2 separate regions of the Homo sapiens genome follow, and region 1 is linked to region 2. Evidence: fine-mapped expression QTL. A gene starts in region 2. The other region holds a variant in brackets. All regions are shown on one strand. Distances are from middle to middle.

Region 1 (8,321 bases), 150 kb after region 2:
ACGAGCATGCTGCCTTCAAGCATCTGTTTAACAAAGCACATCTTGCACCGCCCTTAATCCATTTAACCCTGAGTGGACACAGCACATGTTTCAGAGAGCACAGGGTTGGGGGTAAGGTCACAGATCAACAAGATCCCAAGGCAGAAGAATTTTTCTTAGTGCAGAACAAAATGAAAAGTCTCCCATGTCTACTTCTTTCTACACAGACACGGCAACCATCCGATTTCTCAATCTTTTCCCCACCTTTCCCGCCTTTCTATTCCACAAAGCCGCCATTGTCATCCTGGCCCGTTCTCAATGAGCTGTTGGGCACACCTCCCAGACGGGGTGGTGGCCGGGCAGAGGGGCTCCTCACTTCCCAGTCGGGGCGGCCGGGCAGAGGCACCCCTCACCTCCCAGACGGGGCGGCTGGCTGGGCAGGGGGCTGACCCCCCAACCTCCCTTCCGGACGGGGCGGCTGGCCGGGCGGGGGGCTGACCCCCCCACCTCCCTCCCGGACGGGGCGGCTGGCCGGGCAGGGGGGGCTGACCCCCCCCGACCTCCCTCCTGGACGGGGCGGCTGGCCGGGCGGGGGGCTGACCCCCCCCACCTCCCTCCCGGACGGGGTGGCTGCCGGGCGGAGACGCTCCTCACTTCCCAGATGGGGTGGCTGCCGGGCGGAGAGGCTCCTCACTTCTCAGACGGGGCAGCTGCCGGGCGGAGGGGCTCCTCACTTCTCAGACGGGGTGGTTGCCAGGCAGAGGGTCTCCTCACTTCTTAGACGGGGCGGCCGGGCAGAGACGCTCCTCACCTCCCAGACGGGGTCGCGGCCGGGCAGAGGCGCTCCTCACATCCCAGATGGGGTGGCGGGGCAGAGGCGCTCCCCACATCTCAGATGATGGGCGGCTGGGCAGAGACGCTCCTCACTTCCTAGATGTGATGGCGGCCAGGAAGAGGCGCTCCTCACTTCCTAGATGGGATGGCGGCCGGGCTGAGACGCTCCTCACTTTCCAGACTAGGCAGCCAGGCAGAGGGGCTCCTCACTTCCCAGACGATGGGCGGCCAGGCAGAGACACTGCTCACTTCCCAGACGGGGTGGTGGCCAGGCAGAGGCTGCAATCTCGGCACTTTGGGAGGCCAAGGCAGGCGGCTGGGAGGTGTAGGTTGTAGCGAGCCGAGATCACGCCACTGCACTCCAGCCTGGGCACCATTGAGCACTGAGTGAACGAGACTCCGTCTGCAATCCCGGCACCTCGGGAGGCCGAGGCTGGCGGATCACTCGCGGTTAGGGGCTGGAGACCGGCCCGGCCAACACAGCGAAACCCCGTCTCCACCAAAACCAGTCAGGTGTGGCAGCGCGTGCCTGCAATCGCAGGCACTCGGCAGGCTGAGGCAGGAGAATCAGGCAGGGAGGTTGCAGTGAGCCGAGATGGCAGCAGTACAGTCCAGCTTCGGCTCCGCATGAGAGGGAGACTGTGGAAAGAGAGGGAGACCAGAGGGGGAGGGGGAGGGGGAGGGGGAGGGAGAGGGAGAGGGAGAGGGAGAGGGAGGGAGAGGGAGGGAGAGGGAGAGGGAGAGGGAGAATGGCTTCCTTTCTTAAGGTTACTTCATGGTCAAAGATGGCTGCTGCAGCCCTCAACGTTTTGCTTGTGTTCCCGGCAGCGGGAAGAAGGAAGTAGCAAGAGCCTAATTTTGTATTTTTAATGGAGACAGGGTTTCGCCATGTTGGCCAGGCTGGTCTCAAACTCCTGACCTTAGGTGATCCACCCACCTCAGTCTCCCAAAGTGCTGGGATTACAGGTGTGAGCCACTGCACCTGGCCCATACATGCACTTTAACACTCCGCCTCCCATACCCTCATCCTCTCCAAGCCCTGCTCAGCACCCAGATGAAGACTGTCCTCCCCCACTTGGCCTGCAGGGAATAAAGTGGACAGGGACAGGGGAAGATATGAGGCTCTCGTAGTTGTCCAGACAAGAGACAATGGTGGCTTGATATAGGGCCATGGACACAGGGCTGGAGAGAGAATGACAGATTTAAGTCTATTCTGGAGGCAGAAATGATAGGACTTGGGCTGGGCGCCGTGGCTCACGCCTGTAATCCCAGCACTTTGGGAGGCCGAGGCAGGTGGATCACAAGGTCAGGAGTTCAAGACCAGCCTGGCCAAGATGGTGAAACCCCATCTCTACTAAAAATACAAAAATTAGCTGGGCATGGTGGCGGGCGCCTGTAATCCCTGCTACTCGGGAGGCTGAGGCAGGAGAATCACTTGAACCCGGGAGGCGGAGGTTGCAGTGAGTCATGATCGCACCACCGCACTCCAGCCGGGGTGACAGAGTGAGACAATGTCTCAAAAAAAAAAAAAAAAAAAGAAAGAAAAGAAATGATAGGACTTGCCAAAGAATATATCCTTGATCTCTTGCAGTTCAGCCTTGGCCCATGGCTCAGGTTAGAGATGGAATGTTTATGGGAGTTATTTCAGGGTTGCAAACACAGCACCTATACAGGCCACTGGGTACAGATGGGTCCACCTTTGGGATCAAGCTGACCTTCAGAGAGGGTTACAGACGGGCGCGGCTACTGTTCCTGTCACCATTCCCGCAAACTAAGGGTCTTCCCTGAGCCCACTGTTGCTGAGAAATGCTGCAAGAAGCAGCCAGATCAAGTCCCCTCTTGAGTTTGTTTTAGAAACATTGTCCAGGACATTGCTGTCACCTTAGTGACCTTTCTAATGAGACCCACACTTGAAGCCAAGATGATCTTAAAAAAAAAAAGAAAAGAGGGGTGGGGGGCCAAGCAGTGAAGAGAAACCTCTCCTAGTGCTAAATGCTAAGGAAAGCTTCACTCTCCTGAGGGACTGGTATTTGTTTTCCTTTCCAAGAGCAGCCATGAATGGGGTCTCCCTTTCTGTTGTGAAGAAGCCCAGAACCAAATTTGAAGCCTGCACAGCAACCATGGGAGCCTGTCTTTGCTTCACTTTCCTCCGCTCTCCTCTCCTCACTTCTCTGCCACGTCTCACTTCCAACCCACGTGTTTCCTTGTTCACGGTTTATTCTTTTCTACCTTCGTGATTGGGTCTGTTCTTGGGGAAAGCTAAGCCAGTGCAGATGGAGGTGGGGGAGGCATCTCACAGCTCTGGTGCATCTGGCCAGGACATTTCCGATACGCAGGAGTGGGGAGGGCACCCCATTTGCCCCCCAGTTATTTCCTGTAACTTTCGGCCTCTTGGTGCTGGAGGCCCCTCACCTCCTCTCCATGGCTGCGATGGTCTCCACCAGGGGCATGTTGC[G/T]GGTCTCGGTCAGGACGCAGACGGCCAGCCCAGCCAGGATTGCGGTGGCCCCAAAGCTCACGGGTGGCAGGATGGTGCTGTATTCCCCAAGTGTGGTAACCAGGGGCGCCGTCAGGCCCCCGAGGCGGGCGTGGACAGAGGCAAAGCCCATCCCCATCTGCCTGTGGGAGGTGTGTGGATGGGGATGGGTCAGTGCAGCAACCTGCACCCCTAGGGGCCCAAGAGGGCCACGCCCTGAGTGTCAGAGGACAGGGCAGGAGGGACCAGGGGTCCTGCCTCGGTGAGCCCAACAGGTCTCAACCTGCAGCATCTCCCCCCATGCACCCACCTGATCTCCGTGGGGTACAGCTCGCCGGTAAACAGGTACACACAGATGAAGGAGCTGGCCAGGCAGCCTTTGCCCAGCGCTGCCTGGGCTGTGCACAGGATCTGCGTGCCTAGACAGGGGAGTAGGGTGCAGCTGAGGAGGAGGGGAGGAGAGGGAGGCCCAGGGTGTAGTGGAGAAGGGTGGAGCCTCAGGAGGGGATAGGGCGAGGTGGGGGGAAGAGGCAGAGCCCACTCAGAACCCAGAGGAGAACCAGGATTTCCACCACCTCCCCTTCCCAACTGTTCCTAGGACCCAGGAGTCCCCTGACTGCCCTTCTCTGACTTCTCCCTCCTTGCTCCTTTATTTGCATCTGTCACCAAGTCCTGCTGGGTAGGCAGGTGCTTTAGAGTCAGGCCTGGGTTCAAATTGCAGCTCTCACCCCGCTGGCTGACCTAGGTCAGTGTTTCTTACCCACTCTGCACCTCCCTGTCCTCATCTGTAAAATAAGGAAAATAGCAGCACCTGCTTCATGGGGTTGGCGTAAGCTGGACACAATGCCAGGTGTGCAAAGTGCCCATTAAATGTTTGCCATTGCCTTCATTTTCTTTCTTTCTTTCTTTCTTTTTTTTTGAGACAGAGTCTCTCTGTCACTGAGGCTGGAGTGCAGTGGCACAATCTTGGCTCACTGCAATCTCTGCCTCCTAGGTTCAAGCAATTCTCCTGCCTCAGCCTCCTGAGTAGCTGGGATTATAGGTGTGCACCACCGCGCCCAGCTAATTTTTGTATTTTTAGTAGAGACAGGGTTTCACCATGTTGTCCAGGCTGGTCTCGAACTCCTGACCTCAGGTGATCCACCTGCCTTGGCTTCCCAAAGTACTGGGATTACAGGCATGAGCCACCGCGCCCGGCCCATTGTCCTCATTTTCAATATGCTTCTCCCGCTGTTGTTTATAAGTAGCAAAACCCCTATTCAAACATCCAACGTTAGGACAGCAGTCAAGGAAATGATGGTGCCTTCTCTGGCTGGGTGGCAGCCCTGGCTGCACATTGGAATCAGGTGGGGAGATTTTATAAAACACTCACACCTGGGTCTTACTCAATGTCCACTCTAGCAAGACCTACTGGGGATGGGCTCAAATTTGGGTATTTTTTAAAGGTCCCCAAGAGATTCTATTGTGAGGCCAGAGTTAGAAACATCAATCTAGATGAAATATTATCTAGGCTGGGTGCAGTGGCTCTCGTCTATAACCCCAGCACTTTGGGAGACCAAGGCAGGCAGATCGCTTGAGCCCAGGAGTTTGAGACCAGACTAGGCAACATGGCAAAACCCTGTCTCTACACAAAAAATACAAAAAATTAGCCAGGTGTGGTGGAATGCACCGGTAGTCCCAGCTACTCAGGAGGCTAAGGTGGGAGGATTGCTTGAGCCTGGGAGGTCGAGGCTGCAGTGAGCCATGATTGTGCCACTGTACTCCAGCCTGAGCCACAGAGTGAGACTCTGTCTTAAAAAAGAAAGAAAAGAAAGAAAAAGAAAGGAAGAAAGAAAAGGAGGGAGGGAGGAAAGGCAGAAGGGAGGAAAGGAAGAAGGGAGGGAGGGAGGAAGGAAGGGAGGGAGGGAGGGAGGGAAGGATCACATAGCAATAAAAAATCAGGTCCATGAGGCCAGGCACAGTGGCTCATGCCTGTAATCCCAGCACTTTAGGAGGCCGAGGTGGGCAGATCACTTGAGGTCACGAGTTTGAGACCACCCTGGCCAAAATGATGAAACCCCGCCTGTACTAAAAATACAAAAATTAGCCGGGCATGATGGCACGCATCTCTAATCCCAGCTACTCTGCAGGCTAAGGCAGGGGAATCACTTGAACCTAGGAGGCAGAGGTTGCAGTGAGCACCACAGCACTCCAGCCTGGGCAACAAATGAGACTTCATCTCAAAAAAAAAAAAAAAAATCAGGTCCATGAAACATTTGTGCTAACATGGAAAAGAATGTGTATGTTTCAACATATAATGAAATAAGGGCACTATATATATATATATATATATATATATATATGTACACATGCACATATATACATATATATGTATGTATCCTATTTATATTTTTGTATGTATAAACATATAAAATATCTCAACTATGCTGAATACAAATCTATAAATAGGAAAAAAGATTGGAATGAAATAGGTCAAGACACCAATAATAACATTTATCCATTTTACAGGTGAAGAACTAAGGCACAGAGAAGTTGGACAACCTGCCCACGGCCAAGGCTGCAGTCACAATGGGCACATGGTTTGGCCCATGCTCTATGTCGCTGCTATTCAACCCTGGCGTCTTGCTGGACTCACTGGACAGTTTGTAAAATACTGAGGGTTGAGTTCCACTCCTTGAGATTCCCAGGGCGCTGGCATGGAGCACCTGGGCCCTGGGAGTTTTCAAAGCGCTCCAGGAGAAGGTCATTTTAGCCAGGTTTGCAAACCACTGTTCCAGGGCCAGTCCAGCTGAGGTTTGAATCCTAACTTCTCAACCCTTGGACATGCTGCCTGCTCAGACTTCGGGGGGCCGCACACACTGCTGGCCACACCGAGCCAGCCCCTGTGCTCTCCAGCTGCTTAGGTGCACCTGTCTAACCTCCCTGGCCACACAGTAGAAGCTCTGAGGGCCAAGGCTCAAGACCTCCACCTGCCACTAATTGCCACTGGGCACTAAGTGCTTAATACAAACTCTAGTAATCAACAGTCGCTTTCTTTTTCTTTTTTCTTTTCTTTGAGTCTCACTCTGTCTCCCAGGCTGGAGTACAGTGGCACGATCTTGGCTCACTGCAGCCTCCGTCTCCTGGGTTCAAGTGATTCTTCTGCCTCAGCCTCCCAAGTAGCTGGGATTACAGGTGCACACCACCACGCCCAGCTAATTTTTTTGTATTTTCTGTAGAGACGGGGTTTCACCATGTTGGCCAGGCTGGTCTTGAACTCCTAACCTCAGGTGATTTGCCCGCCTTGGCCTCCCAAAGTGCTGGGATTACAGGCGTGAGCCACCGTGCCCAGCCTAACAGTTGCTTTCTTTTCAGATCCGGAGACATACCCTTCAGCCTTGCTGCCATGTGAAATTTGTTGTCTACCAGACCCCAGAGGCTCCCAGTTCTTGGTGTGCAGCAAGGGCAGAAGTGGGTGACTCACCTTCTGGCACAAACATGTTGGCGATCACCATGAGCCCGGCCAGGATGAGGAAGGAGGCCACCGTGGCACGGCGGCCCACGTAAATCATGGTGGCGGTGGCCACCAGCATGGCCGGGGTGTTGATGATTCCAAACAGGGCCTGCACCAGGTATAGGCTGAGCCCAAACTTCTGCAGGTCCATGGCCAGGCCATAGTAAGCCACAGAGTTGGAGAACCTGGGAGAGGCAGTGGAATGGTCCTTGTTCACCCCATGGTTCACTGTTGTGAGCCCAGGGGAGGGGACACAAAGGTGGATGACACAGGATTCCTCTCCTCGGGGAGGTAAAATTCCCTGACTTTCCATAAACACCCCTTCACGGTCTCCTAAGTCTCTGTCTTTAGTATTAGAGCTCAGACCCCTCCCTCCACATCCCTTTCTACCACCCACTCCTGGATCCAGTGCATGGGTTCTGGAGTGTTTGCTTTTCTCTGCAGTACCCACCTCAGCGCCGAAATTAAGGCAGTGCTAAAAAATAAAAAGAGAAGAAGATGGAGGAAGGTCAAAGGACACAGGAGCCAATGTGGAAGAGCTCCCAATGGCCAAAGCTGGAGGAATTTGGGAAATAAGGTAAAGAATGTAGTATCTACTAAATAAAGGAAAAACGTTGTTGAATTATAACCCAAAGTATAAACTACATGGTTACACATGAGCCTATATAAATAAATGATTTCATAAATAAGTCTTTCTTAAAGAAGAACTCCAAACAATGTGTGTAAATACTCCACTCCTAGGCTGGGCACGGTGACTCATGCCTGTAATCGAAGCACTTTGGGAGGCCAAGGCGGGTGTATCATGAGGTCAGGAGTTCAAGACCAGCCTGGCCAAGTTGGTGAAACCCCGTCTCTACTAAAAATACAAAAATTAGCCAGGCGCCTATAATCTCAGCTACTCAGGAGGCTGAGGCAGAGAATTGCTTGAACCTGGGAGGCGGAGGTTGCAGTGAGCCGAGATCGCGCCACTGCACTCCAGCCTGGGCAATAGAGGGAGACTCCATCTCAAACAAAACAAAACAAAACAAAACAAACAAACAAACAAAAAAATCCATTCCTTCAGGAGATGAAACTTAGTTTCCCTCCCCTTGAGTGTGGACTGGACTCACTTTCAAATAATAGTATATGGAAAGAGGCTGCTCATGGTGGCTCATACTTTTAATCCCAGCACTTTGGGAGGCTGAGGTGGGTGGATTGCTTCAGCCCAGGAGTTCAAGACTAGCCTTGGCAACATGGTGAAACCCCATTTCTACCAAAAGTACAAAAATTCGCCAGTCTCATAACCTGGTCTCAAAATAAATAAATAGATTAAAATTGAAAAGTAAAACAAGAATATGGAAAGAGAACATTTATTAACTTTACAGTGGAGAAACCTGGTAGACACTACCTTAACCAAGGGATTAACTTCAAAATCACCAGTAATCAGTCATGTTGACATCATATATGCCCTCATATGATATGATATGATATGATGAGAAGGTCATATCACCTCCATGGTTCTCCTTTCCCAAATCCACAATCCCAGTTTAGTCATGAGAGAAC
Region 2 (8,321 bases):
ACCAGGACAGACACTCTGTTTTTCCAGGGAGCAGTGACATGAGCCCTTACTATCTTACACAACAGCCTGGGAGACCTTGAGGTTTTCCCAGGCTGGGAGGAGACTTGGGGCCCCAAAGAGGCAGGTGTGAAACCACCTACCCTCAGGGCCATGTCACTGACATGTCCTGGTAATGCAACATGTGTGCATCTGAGATGTGGAACTCAGGGAGAAAAATAAGTCCATGGGGCACCTTCTGGGGCCAGAGGAACCAGAAGTTGTCCCAAGTGACAGCAGTGGGCTTGGTGATCAGGAACAGAGGGCAGTGGGTTCACTTTGCCCTGGTTCCCTGGGATTGGAAAGCAGCTCTAGCTCCTGACCCAGTCCAGCCTTCTTTGGTATGTGAACCAGCTCTGCCTGCCCTCCTATGATCCACACTGCCCCACAGCTGAGCCCATGACATCACATTTGCCTTGCCAATGTGACTTAAGGACTTGAGGAAGCTCAGATGTGGGCTGCAGGGAAGGGTGTCCAGTGGGGGCAGGCATCTCCTTCCTGGTTCTCAGCTCTGGGACCCTCAGACCAGGACACACTGTATCTCCATGGCCTCTTGACCCAGCTGGAGTGAAGCAGGAGCAGAAGAGTTCAGTGTTGTTTTGAATGCTTACTGGATGCGGGGCTTGTGCTAGGTCAGGGGATGGAGACTGAGGGGAGACGTGGCCCTGCCCTCAGAAAGTGTCTGTTGTGGTTTAATTGGTGAGTTAAGGAAGAGGGGAAAGAGAAAGAAGCCCAGGAGAACAGCACATTTAAAACCACAGCACTTTGGGAGGCCGAGGCAGGAGGATCGCCTGAGGCCAGGAGTTCAAGACCAGCCTGGGGAACATAGTGAGACGCCATCTGTAAAAAACCCAAAAATTAGCCAGGTGTGGTGGCACACATCTGTGGTCCTAGCCATTCAGGAGCCTGAGGTGGGAGGATCGCTGGAGCCCAGGAGTGTGAGCTCACAGTGAGCTCTGATAGCGCCATCCTGCCACTGTATTCCAGCCTGGACAACAGTGAGACTCTGTCTCCAAAAAAATAAATAAAACCACAGAAGATGACAGCATTGCCTTAAGAACTATGAAATGCTACAGGCAGGAAAAGTCTCTGCTCACTTGCTGTGTGTGGGGCACTGGGCCAGGCCCTTTCCCCTGTTTCCTGTGTCATTCTCATGCGTCCTGAGAGTGGAAATAAGTATTAGCAGTTGCCATTTACGTGCCAGCCACTTTTTAAAGTGCTTTAATCCTTAGAACTCACTAAGAGGTGAGTATCACATCTCTGTTTTATGTCAAAGACTGACACCTGGGAGTGTCTGCGGTGGTGGTGGGGAGGCTAGAACCCGGGTCTAGTCAAGGAGGGGCACTGGGAGAGAGTCCGGGAGGCTGATGGTGGGGAAGGAAAGGCATTCCAGGTAGTGGGAACTGCACGAGCATGGTTAGGACCCCAGGAAAGACCCCCGCTGTGTGAGAGCATAGCAGGTGGGTGGCACCATGGGGGAGGCCTTGAACCCCAGGATGACAGATATGGGGCAGGCGTGTTAGACAGTAAGAACATTTTGGAGGTTGTGAGCTAGAGATTCACAAGATGACGCCATGCTTAGGTGGGCTTCCCTTCAGCAAGGCTGTAGGGAAGTGGGAATGAGGGTCTTTCTCAAACTGGGGTGAGGCGGTGAGATTGGAAAAGAGAATGAGACCCATTCTGAAGTGAGGGAGGAGGCGGCCTCCAGCCTTTAGAGCTGAGAGGCTTAGACATCAATTAGCCCGACTGCTGTCCTACTTTGGCAAACAATAATAGACCCCAAGGCCCACAGAAGAGGTTGCTCAACATCACTGAGAGAGATAATGTAACCGCCCATTGGGTTCACCTTACCCTCTGCCTAGACAGAGCCAATTTGTCAAGACAGGGGAATTGCAATAAGGAGAGTTTAATTCATGCAGAGCTGGCTGTACGAGAGACAGGAGGGTTTTTTTTTTGTTTGTTTGTTTGTTTTTTTTTTTTGAGACGGAGTCTCGCTCTGTTGCCCAGGCTGGAGTATAGTGGCATGATCTTGGCTCACTGCAACAGCTGCCTCTCGGGTTCAAGCGATTCTCCTGCCTCAGCATCCCAAGTAGCTGGGACTACAGGCGCCCGTCATCACACCCGGCTAATTTTTGTATTTTTGGTAGAGATGGGGTTTCACTATGTTGGTCAGGCTGGTCTCGAACTCCTGACCTCAGGTGGTCCTTCCGCCTCGGCCTCCCAAAGTGCTGGGATTACAGGCGTGAGCCACTGCGCCTGGCCTGTATCAGTTATAGTTTTTGCAAAGGCAGTTTCAGGAATAAGAAGCAGAACCAGGACTGCAGCCCAAGCCACCACGAGAGGCCAGTCTTTGGGGATGGTCTTTTAGGATGATCTTTGGGGGTGGCCCAAGGAGCCCCAGGCAGCTCCAGAGGCAGGAGGTAGGAGGTCCTGTTTCCCGAATCTGTCCACCCGGGAGAAAGCAGCAGGGGTGGGTGGGTTCTGCCTTGGCCACAGTGAGAGGAGAAGGGAGAGAAGGACTGGGCCTTGGGCGTCCCCCATGGGAGACTAGGAGCTGCGGGGAGATCTGGAGGGGAGGGTGCAGGTGTCACTGGGCCTTGATGTTTCCCAGGGCCGTTTGGTGATGGGAAGAGGGAACTGGAGCCCCAGGCTGCCGCTGATGCTGCTGGCTGACATTTCCGTTCATTCAGTCACTCAGGATTTATTGAGAGCCCACCCTGTGCCACCCGCTGTGCACAGAACACCCAGAGATCCCTGTCCAGACAGACAAGTTCTTCCCATCGTATGTTGGCGTGATAACTGTGATGGAGAAAGAGAGGAAGAGCCAGCAGTGCCTCCGGCTGGGGAGGCGGGGCAGACCTCACCCAGGTGGTGACATTTGAGCCCCAGCTGGAGGGGTGCCAGGGCAAGAGTGCCCAGGAAGAGGGAAGAGCCAGTCCACAGGCCTGGAGACAGAAGGCTGACTGAAGAAGAGTCTGGAGGCTCGGGTGGCTGCAGCAGAGAAAGCAAGGGGGTGGGTGGCAGGACGTGAGGTCAGAGGAGAATGGGCGGCACCCTGTGGCTCACAGATCCTTGAAAGGGTTTTGGTTTTGACTGAGCAGAATGGTGCCATTGCAGATCAACACGCACTTTAAATAATCAAAACCCCTATCTTTCCCCTGGGAAGGAGGAAGCCGAGGAAGGCTGTGTTTCTGACTCACACGGGGGAGTCGGGGGAGTCGTAAACAACCCTGAAGAGAACAGCCAGGCCTGGTGAGTCACTCCTGGGAGTGGCTCCTCCCCACCCTGCCACGCAGCGGCAAATGCGGGCTGGGCCTACCCCCTGGTGGCCACGCTACCTCCGCACCCGGCCTCTCTCTGTGGCATGGGGGCGGCCATGCCCCTTGGTGGAGATGAATGGGAGTGGAGCTGGGCTGGCTGGGCAGGCAGGGGCTTGCCTCTTGCTGACTAAGGCAGCCCTGGAGGGGCCCGACCATGGGGCAGGAACCCAGTTGCCATCCTCAGAGCGAGGATCATTGGCCGGGCTCGGGGATCAGGGCCTCTGTGGTCCCGGCACGCCTGGCCCGTGAGACTGTACTCTGCACGACTCCTCCAGGTGGCCAGGGTCACCGGAACTGGCTCGCTCTCCTCTGCCAGTTGCCGGAGGTCTGGGCACCAGGCCAATTCTCACCTTCCCGCCAGGGTTAAACATTAGTGGGAGGTTATCAGCGTGGGCCAGGGGAGGGAGAGGGGGGAATTCAACTCTGTCTCCTCTGCTGGAGCCACCAGTTCCCGCAAGCCCAGACAATGCCGGTGGAGGAATTTGTGGCTGGCTGGATCTCTGGTGAGACATTTTTCTTCCTTCTGTCACATCACACCCAATGGTAGGTCACTTCCTCGGGAAGATGGGTGACATGGGAGGAGCAGAGACCAAAGTCTGAGTTCCGGCCTGGCGGGAGGATCACTTGAGCCCAGGAGTTTGAGACCAGTCTGGGCAACATAGGGAGGCCCCTGTCTCTACAAAAAAATCAAAATAATTAGCTGGGCATGGTGGCTCACACCTGTAGTCCCAGCTACTTAGGAGGATTGCTTGAGCTCAGGAGTTCAAGGCTGCAGTGAGCTATGACTGCACCACTGCACTCCAGCCTGGGTGACAGAATGAGACCCTGCCACAAAAAAAAAAAAAAAAAAAAAAAAAGAATCAGGGCATGGTGGCTCACACCTGTAATCCCAGCACTTTGCGAGGCTGAGGTAGGAGGATCACTTGGGGCCAGGAGTTTGAGACCAGCCTGGGCAACATAGGAAGACCCTGTCTTTATAAGAAATGAGAGGCTGGGCGCGGTGGCTCATGCCTGTAAGCCCAGCACTTTGGGAGGCTGAGGTAGGTGGATCATGAGGTCAAGATTTCGAGACCAGGCTGGCCAACATGGTGAAACCCCGTCTCTACTAAAAATACAAAAATTAGCCAGGCGCGGTGGCGCACGCCTGTGGTCCCAACTACTCCAGAGGCTGAGGTGGAAGGAGCCCTTAAGCTCAGGAGGTTGAAGCTGCAATGAGCCATGATCATGCCACTGCACTCCAGCCTGGACAACACCAGCAAGACCCTGTGTCAAAAAAAAAAAGTCTGGGTTCCGTGGAGCACCCCAGAGCCAGCTGTCCCCAGTCCTCTGGGGAGTGGCCGATGGGAAGAAGAGAGGAAGGCACAGGTGGGAGGGTGCTGCCTCTGCCTTCCAAGGCCACTCTGCCTGACACCTGCAGAGGGCGGGAGAGCCAGGTGAGCACCCTATACCTTGAGCCCTGCTCTCCAGGCCCACCCTGTTGGGCTTACAAAGGAAGTTCACCTTTGACCTCACCTGCTGTCCTGAGTCCCCTCTGGGCCTCTGCCCCACCTGGCTGTGGGCCGCAGTCCCGGGCCCTGAGGCCTGTTGTGCTGTGGTCCCAGCCCAGCTTCTGGGTGGCATTCCTCTTAGGAGAAAGAGAGGGACGTTCTGAACCTGCCTCCTGGGGGTGCGACCTCCCCCAAACTCCAGAACCAGCCTCTGCTGTGGAGGGCAGGGCTAGGCAGTGGGCAGGTGGAGGGGAGGGGAGAAGCTCCTCTGCAGGTGCCCAGGCATGACCCCCATCAGGGCCCTGCAGTTCTGCGTGGCCAGCTGGCAGCAGGGCCTGCTCTGGATCCCGGCGACGACATTATGAGTTGAAGAAAGAAGAGTAAAGCTCTCGGAGAGGTGGGAACCTGGGTGATTCTCCCAGAGTCCCGCGGCTCATAGGCGGTGGGATACCCGGGTATGGGCTCCAGCGAGGACACGTACGTCTTTGGCTGGCTCTTCCCTCTTGGGTGTGCATCCTCAGGTGGGGCCTGGGGTCTTAGTCCCTTGTCCCAGTGCCTTCCTGGCCCAGTGCCTGTGTGGAGGGGGTGGCAGGGGCAGCTGGAGTCTCTAGAGCTTGGCAGGAAGGTGGCTGCATGTGTCTGAGATGGCCCTGCTCTCCTTCCTCCTGCCTGAACCCCTCTTTCCTCTTGGCACAGACTTGCTTCCTGGGCCTGGCACGAGGGCCCTCACTCATAGCACCCTCTTGTCACCACAGGCGCTCTGGGCTTGGTCCTGGGACACCCGTTTGACACTGTAAAGGTGAGTTTAGGAGAGCTGCCAGAGGAATGAAAGATCTCACCTGACCCAAATGTCAGGGTGCCCTGAGATCAGGCCTGGCTAATCTTGCCTTTCCTGCCTCTCCTGCTGGTTGGCATCCCGCTTGAGGGGGCAGAGGGAAAGGTTGGCCCACCTGCCCATCCCGCCACCCTACCTGCTCTGTCCTCCCACCCAGGTGAGGCTGCAGACCCAGACCACCTACCGGGGCATCGTTGATTGCATGGTCAAGATTTACCGCCATGAGTCCGTGAGTGGCCCACTCCTTTGGGGTCCTTCCCCTTTCGGGGAGGCATCTGGGGCTGTTGGTACCAGCTTCCCTCTCCAGCAGGGTTCTGCTCCTGGAGGAGAGAAGACCAAGTCTGGGATCCTTGGGGGGCCTGGGTGGTAGCTTAGCACCCCAGAGGCGCAGCCTCAGCCCATCCCTGCCTGTCCCCACTTCCCTGTGGCAGGACTTGGGAGCAGTTTCCAGCCAGAGGCTGCCTTGCCAGGGGTGGAGAGGACAAAGGGGAGGCCCCACGGTGCCTACTCCGCTGCCACTGTGTCTCTCTGCAGCTCCTGGGCTTCTTCAAGGGAATGAGCTTCCCCATTGCCAGCATAGCTGTGGTCAACTCTGTCCTGTTTGGGGTCTATAGCAACACCCTGCTGGTGCTCACGGCCACCTCCCACCAGGAGCGGCGGGCCCAGCCGCCCAGCTACATGCACATCTTCCTAGCGGGCTGCACCGGGGGGTTCCTGCAGGTGAGGGGGCAGTGAGTGGGCACACACAGGTGTCATAGGGATGGTCATCTCGATCTGTCCTCTCCCACCCTGCCCTGGCGACCCACAGCTGTGGAGGCATAGGCCTCTTGGAGGGGAACAAGAGGCCTGTGCTATGGCCTTCCAGGCTGCAGGCCTCTGGGGGAGGGCTGTGGGGAACAGAGGGGGCAAAAGGCAGAGACAGCTGGTGGGCAGTGCCAAGAGGGTGCTGGGAGAAGCAGCCTGGGCCACTCGCTCCAGCTGACGGGGCTTGCCCCCCTCCAGAGGGGTCTGCCAGCCTCAGAGCTGTGGGGAGCCCACTCCCCAAGGAGACCTTTGACCCTGGAGAACCACCAGCACCCCGCAGAGCTGTGAGCCCAGCCCCTCTGGCCGGGTCCTGATGAGGTCCTGACACTCCCCTGGCCCTGCCTGGCTCTACACTTTGCCTGCAGTGCTTGGGTGCCCATGACCTGGGAGCCTCACCTGAGGCCCAGCCCAGCAGGGCATTAACCATTCAGGCACTGCCGTCATCTGGGCTTTGGGCTTTAGAGGGGTGGATGGAGGGAAGAGGGACCAGCTGCCGCCAGTGGGAACCGGTGCTGAATGGGTCCTGTGAGCATAAGCAGGGAGAGGGTGCGCCCGGCACCCACTGACACCCCAGCCGCAAGCCAGGGTCGCCCTCTCCTGGGCAGCTGCCCCCAGTTCCTTGTCACACTTCATGGGGCAGAGAGCAAGGACAAAGGACAAAGTCAGGCTGCTCCTTCAAATGAATTAATGATTAATGAGACCCCCGGAGGCCCCGGCTTTTCTTCTGCCCCTTCTTGTGCGAGGTGCCACCTATAGGTTTCCTGAGCCCCGCGAGCCACATCCCACAAACACAAGGAAGAGAACCGAAGCCCTAAGCTAAGTGGCCAGGCCCGGCTTCTAAGTCACCCTGCCCCCCCAGCTCTTTGGAAAGCAGAAGTGGGGACTGTGAGGGCCGCTGATGGAGCCTGGGTTTACAGTGAAACCTGTGGCTTTAGTTTAACAGAGTCTTAAAGGAAAAATGTGTTTTAGTGTGGAGTGGGAAGAAGAGGCAGGGACTGACAGCCTCTGACGGGCACAGACGTTGCCCTGGTCTTCGCCGAAGCTGACCTTCTGAAATGGCATCTGACACTCCACCACCCCTGTGGGGGTGTCTGTCACCTGGTGTCAGCCTAGCCCTGTCCTCAGCCCCCAGGAGCTCAGGGCTCAGAACACCTCCTGAAGCCCTGAGCTCAGCCCTGCCAGCACGCTCTAGAGGGTGGCACAAGGCCCCATCTCCCAAGGGATGGTACCTAACCTACGACCCTTACTCCTGGGACCAAAGTAAACAAGCGAAGACTTGGCCTGCCACACCCTAAGTACCACCACCCACCACCAGAGGCGACCGCCAGCCCCCGTCGCCATCAGCCATCTCCAGGGCTGAGGAACTGAGCCCATGTACCTGTCACAAAACAAACAAGCAAAAAACAGATAAATCCCTCAGAGACAGGCTAGCCTTGACATGGACCCCGATTCTCACCTGGACTCCAAAAGCTATCTTGACCTACTGGCATCTCTGACCCAAATCTTAATTGCCCCCATCGCCCTCTACATCCCCCCAGCACTGACCCTCACCAGGACTCCAGCCCCAATTCCATCCCAAATCTGTGTAGCATCTGCTTCTGCCGATTCTAAGAGCCCTAGCACCTGCCAAGTCCCCCCATTACCCACCTTCCCACACTCAGAAGCCTCTTTGGTGGGATGCTAATGGGAAGGAGTCTTGCCTCTCTGGAGGCAGGAGGGGCTGGCCTTGTGCCCCTCCGGGCCTCTGAGAGGTGGGCGCAGGAGAACAGCACTCACGAGGGGACCTCCTTCACCCTGGGAAAGGGTGGTTTCTTTGCTATTTCACAGTCACAGGCTGAA

Evidence for each region. PIP is the estimated chance that this variant, and not a neighbour inherited with it, causes the effect.
Region 1: its variant is fine-mapped to the expression of SLC25A45 in whole blood (TOPMed, PIP 0.94).

Annotation. Positions count from the first base shown.
Region 1 is chr11:65,231,793-65,240,113 of GRCh38, reverse strand. It overlaps the pseudogene SLC22A20P. Among named protein-coding and RNA genes, the nearest start is that of POLA2, 26 kb to the left of the region's middle. The variant G/T (reference allele first, on the strand shown) is at 3,269.
Region 2 is chr11:65,377,453-65,385,773 of GRCh38, reverse strand. SLC25A45 (solute carrier family 25 member 45) reads left to right here and starts at 3,128. Exons shown (of 7, transcript NM_182556.4): 1 at 3,128-3,288; 2 at 3,805-3,859; 3 at 5,599-5,642; 4 at 5,836-5,907; 5 at 6,213-6,398. The coding sequence starts at 3,823. It also overlaps a transcript of FRMD8 not described here. RefSeq lists a silencer at 1,702-1,996 and enhancers at 1,908-2,434, 2,763-2,962, 2,973-3,282, 3,182-3,476, 2,963-3,490 and 4 more.